Linked DNA regions of Homo sapiens: region 2 is linked to region 1. Evidence: fine-mapped expression QTL. Tissue or cell type: whole blood. Region 1 holds a variant in brackets; the other region holds the start of a gene. All regions are shown on one strand. Distances are from middle to middle.

Evidence for each region. PIP is the estimated chance that this variant, and not a neighbour inherited with it, causes the effect.
Region 2: EPDR1 starts here. The variant in region 1 is fine-mapped to the expression of EPDR1 in whole blood (INTERVAL, PIP above 0.99).

The regions. Positions count from the first base shown.
Region 1 is chr7:37,984,616-37,987,301 of GRCh38, reverse strand. No RefSeq gene overlaps it. Among named protein-coding and RNA genes, the nearest start is that of EPDR1, 65 kb to the right of the region's middle. RefSeq lists an enhancer at 1-416. The variant G/A (reference allele first, on the strand shown) is at 1,579.
Region 2 is chr7:37,919,241-37,921,926 of GRCh38, reverse strand. It overlaps EPDR1 (ependymin related 1), which reads right to left and starts at 1,287. Exons shown (of 3, transcript NM_017549.5): 1 at 719-1,287. The coding sequence starts at 987. RefSeq lists a silencer at 593-1,042.

The DNA.
Region 1 (2,686 bases):
CCTAGAGTTCAGCAAAAAAGGACTTGCTCTAGGGGAGGAATTATGAACAAGAGGCTCCAGCTGAGCTAGAAGATGGTGCCCAGCAGGAGGGAAGTGGAACAGACAGATTCCTGCTCTTTTAGAGCTTCAACGATGAAGTCTATTGTTCTGTGGTTTGAGGAACACTCATCATTCACCATAGCTGGTTGACATCATTTACTAAGTTGAATCAAGTACAAAAGGAAAAAGTTCTTTATGATAGGCCAGATTCCATGAGTGGGAATTCCTTGGAGTGAAACAGGGAGAAAATACGCCCCAGTGTTAAAGACTTTCCAGAGATTTTTTCCATTCCACTTTCCACCCCTCCCTAAATCACTCGCCAAAGAAATGCTTTGCTGGACACTAAAGTGGCCACAGCTGTGCTCATAAGAAAACATCAGAATATAAAATTAATCGTTGTATTTTTTAGTTAACCTTTTTGGAGTGTGTGTGCAGGGTTAAAGGACAGGTGCTATTAAGATGATAGACATCTTTGAAATGTTTGGAAGTACTGCCAGTTTCTATGACCAAAAGCTTTCCAAACAGCTGTAATTATTTGAAGGTCAATGAACTAAAAGTTTCCCTGTATTAGCTTTAGGCAAAAAGGTCATTAATGCTTTAGGGGACTGTAATAAATCTGAAAGAAGCTGGCTTGACCCTCCCCTTCTGCAGTTCTCTATCTGATCACCCTGAGATCCTTTTCAACTCCAGCTTCCTGGGAGGCCAGAGATGAGCCAGTGACTGACTCCTTGACCAGCCACACAGGGCCTAGAGTTGTACCCTACCTGGATTGGCGAGGTCTTCCATGACTTATGTAGCCTCATCCTCAGATGAGGACCACCACCCAATCCCCTCAAAAAGCCTGAAATCAGTCTTCTATGCTAGGTGTGAAAAAAAGAGAGGTAATTACACTGTTTTATTCCATCAGTGTTTGAAAAAAGTGCACAACTTCTATGCAGGCATCCCAAAGCATCTAGGATTGCAGGGATGGATAGAAAGTCCTTCAATCACAACAGAATTCCTATTTGGCTCTTTAAAAAAGGAGACAGGACAGGCTGACAGATGCTACGGTGCTTAGACCCACATGTTGTCCACAAAATTGGGATTATCCTCTAATTCTAAAGGTATAGCTTTGGTGACCGTTTTGCCATTGGTGCCATCTCTCAGGAACCTGATAATAAACTACAATGTTTTAAACTTGTACTATATCCAGGAGCTATGTAGATATATAAAATATTTTCTTATTTAAATTCCACATGTGTACAATGTAGGTATTATTTTCATTGCACCAATATGATAGATGAGACAATAATTTTCTCAAAGACACTCAATTAAGTTGGCTGACTGCAAAGAGTTTTAGGCAATAAGATTTACATTCTTTACCTTTAGCTTATCATCTTCCAAAGATGATGCTTTAATCATTGTCAGCTGGTTATTGATCATATTGTTCTTTGAGCCCATCCCCATGGGATTTGAAAAATCTGCTTCTAAGCATATCTGGAACTTTTTTACATTTTCCTTTTTTTTTTTTTAAGATGGAAGTCTCCACTATGCTGCCCA[G/A]GCTGGAGTGCCATGGTTATTCACAGGAGTGATCGTAGAGCATTATAGCTTCAAACTCCTGGCCTCAAGAGATCCTCCTGCCTCAGCATCCTGAGTACAGCGTACAGGCATGTGCTACCATGCCCAGCCATATCCTGAGGTTTTCACTTACAATAACTGAAGCTCTTACCTTGCCACCTCAGGCCATCTACTAAAAAGGCATAGATATTATTTCAGGGAAAGAAATGCCTGGCTGCAAATATTTTCCTTCAACTGACTTGATAGTTCTGTTAGTGTCTTCCAAGCATAGTTTTCAATTCAGGGCTCATGCAATACTCTTTATCTATTGTGTCTTTGTTTTCAATAGTAATAATATATGAACTTAGAATAAATATGCTCTTCTTTTAAGAATTTACAATTGTGTGTGAATACAAAGACTGCAAAATATATTAAAGAGATTTATTATGTAAGAGATTCATTATGAAAGAGTTTAAAGATGAAAGAAATTCATCAAAGCGTTTGTATATTTCAAGAAGAAAGTATGACATCATCCAAATACATACATATTGCTAGGTTAAATATTATTTCCACCACAAGATAAAAATCTATCCTCCTCTGTGCTAGTGTAAAACTCAGGAGTTGGCTTCTTCAGCTGCCCTTGGCTCTGAAATCTTCAACTGGCCACCCTTAGGGTTCCAAACACACACCCAACCTCACGCCCCACGCAGAGTTACTTTGCGTCCACACAGCTGAGCTCCATGTGGTGTTTTAACGGTCATAGGATCTAATTCCCACATCCTCTTCTGAGAGCTGAGATTTATGATCCCAATAAAGATTTTGACAGAAAGATGAGAAGAACTTAGTTTAAAATGTTGCCCTGAAATTCCCTACTCATCACCCCATTAATCACAGATTAAAATAAAAGCACATATGAGCTAATATCACAGGGTCTAACAGGGTGAATATGTTTTGGAATTAGCAACAATCCCTTAATAACAATGTATTATCTCTGAAATTCCCTTTCAGAACAGTGACCTTGGTTTGAAATTTAAAAAAATATATCAGGCAAATCTGTTAAGACATAATAAATAGGGAGTGGCTAAGACACTCTGAAAACAGATATCAAGGA
Region 2 (2,686 bases), 65 kb after region 1:
AAGCGATACTGTGCAGCCATTAAAAATAGGAGGCAAGCTAATAAAATGGCAAATAAGAACATATAAGGGACAATGTTAAGTTAAAAAAAGATTCAGATAACGTATGGCTTTTGATCATAGTATGTAAAATTTGCTTTAAAATAAACAAAAAACTTAAAAGGAGTAGACCAAAATTTTAATGCTGTAACAATTTGCTAAGTTTGTGGGTGAAATTTTCTTTTTATCACTTTCCCATACCGTTTGTAATCTTGCCATATTCTTTTAAAATACAAAAAGTATTTCTTAGAAAATACATATTCTGCGTGCCTCTCTAGCAGATGTCTCTAGAAAGAAATGAGATAGCGCAGAAGACACGCCCTAGACTGCAGGGGGCTCCATGAGCCCAGAGCCTGACTCAGCAGCGTGAGAACAGGGGCGAACCTGGGCATGGGGCACTCTGCAGCTTGATCCCGCCCTGGATGGGTCCCTTCTTTACCTGCCACCGCCTCGCTGGGTGTTACTGAGTCCCCCGCCAGCAGGCCGCCCTCGGTGGGCGCAGCGCCCCTCCCAGTCCCGGACCATGCTATCCCCAAGAGACCCTCCTCGCGAAAGATCTCTCTGGGAGAAGGGAGGAGCTGCAAGGGGCCGGAAAGAGTTACAGGGCGCAGGCCTCTGCGACCTCGCCCTCCCCATGCCCGCGCGGCTCCCTACTCCCGCCCCGCGGGCCGATGACCTGTACCTCTTGCAGGGGATCAGCGCCTTCCTCTCGTCCAGCACCCGCACGCGCTGGTTGAGCCCGTCGTAGGAGAGCAGGGCGCGGCTGTTGCGCCCGCTACTTTGCTGGTACATAACCTGGCGCCCCTCCCACTGCTGCGGCGCCTGGCACGGGCGCGGGGCTCCCACCGCCCCCAGGCTGCACAGGCCGCACAGGGTCCAGGCCCAGAGGCCGCCCAGCAGCCAGGCACCCAGGGCGCCCGGGACGGTGCGGAGGGGAGCGCGTCCTGGCATCGCGGTCAGCCTTCCCCGGCCCGAGGGCAAGCCCAAGCCCAAGGGGGCGCTGAGGCGTCCGGGATCAGAGTGGCTCCCGCCGGCTCTTTCCGCACTGTGCCGGGAGTGTGGTCTGGACCAAAGTGCTTCCTGTCCCTTCGGTGGCCTCTGCCGCTTTTGAGATCCGGACGCGCGAGTCCCGGTAGCCGGGACCAGGGCCCGGGGAAGGCTCCAGTGAATCGCGCGGGAGCTATTTCTGCCTGGGCCACTGCCTGCTGCCACTGCCTGCTGCCACTGCCTTCTGCCGCTTCGGTTTTCACTGCTCACTGCTGCCAACAGGAAATGCAGTGGCAGTGGTGCCACTAGCATCCTGGGAGGCATCGTGTTTTAAGAGGGGGGATGGGGGGAGACTGTGCTGAGAAGTGTGTTTCTCCACTAACTTCAGTGTTCAACAGGTAATCACACAGGGAGGGGCAAGTTCAAGGTCAAGATAGGAAAAGCAGAGCTGCTGCGTTTGCTGTGCAAACGTTTGCCCCGCCTACATTGCCCCTCGACAAAATTGCAAACTTCTTCCTCCAAATTAAAAGTGGAAAGACGAGTCTTTTCCTGAAGAAATGATACTAGCTATTCATCATGGCCGCTCCTCAGCTCCCATTCCCAGTGAAGAGTCTAGGAGACTAGTAGACAGCCCCTTGCATTGGGCCTAGGACTCATGGACATAGCCTCAAGGTCACATTGCAGTGAGACTGCTCCTCCCATCGCCTGGCAATACCACCAGCCGAGTGGTTTGGGTGTCTGGGGGGTTTCGCTTCTTCAAGAATAAGGTTAATTGGGTTTATAGTTATGTAATGTTAGGATCTATAATATGGAATGAGCGAGGCTCACACACCTGTAGTCCCAGCTACTCCTGAGGCTGAAGTGGGAGGATCGCTTGAGCCCAGGAGTTAGAGGTTGCAGTGAGCTATGATCATGCCACTGCACTCCATCCAGCCTGGGTGACATGGCGAGACCCTGTCTCTAAAAATATAGTGATAAAGTATGAAATCAAGAAAAAAGAAAGGAACTAAAAAAATGTATAGCGTCTTTCCATTTGAACTGCATTTCAAGGATGATTAAGATTGAGCCAGGTGAAAGTGGGAGATAACATTCCTGAATGAAGGGCATAAGGACAAGAAAAGAATAATGCTGGGGTTCAAGGACAAGGTAGAGGAGTACTCTGAAGCCATAGCACTCATTTTAAGGAATTTGTCATTGATATTGAGGACTGTGGGAACTATCAATCAATGTAAAGCTAGGGAGGAGCATCATCAGGCATATGCTTTAGAAAGCCCACTTAGACAACAGAAAGGGTAGGGCCAGAGGGAAGGCAGGGAGAGGAGGAAGCTACTGTTATCATCCTGGAAAGAGATGATCCTGACTCAGCTAAGGCAGCGGGAGTGGTCATGGAAAGGGTGGAAGACAGGTGGGAGCTGTAGAGAAGCATTTCAACTCAGAGAGAGAGGTTTCTGGTTTGGGCCACTGGGAATCCAGTCCTGAGTGAGGAGAGATGATCAATTCATTTTAGGATTGGTTGATCTTGAGCTGACTGTGGAGTATTAAGGTGGAAATATCCAAGGGACAGCTGGATAAATACTTCTGGAAACCAGCAGAGCTTTTGGATTAGGAAGCCATAGGTACATAGGTGGTAAATGAAGCCGAAGAGTAGAACAGTGGTTCCTGG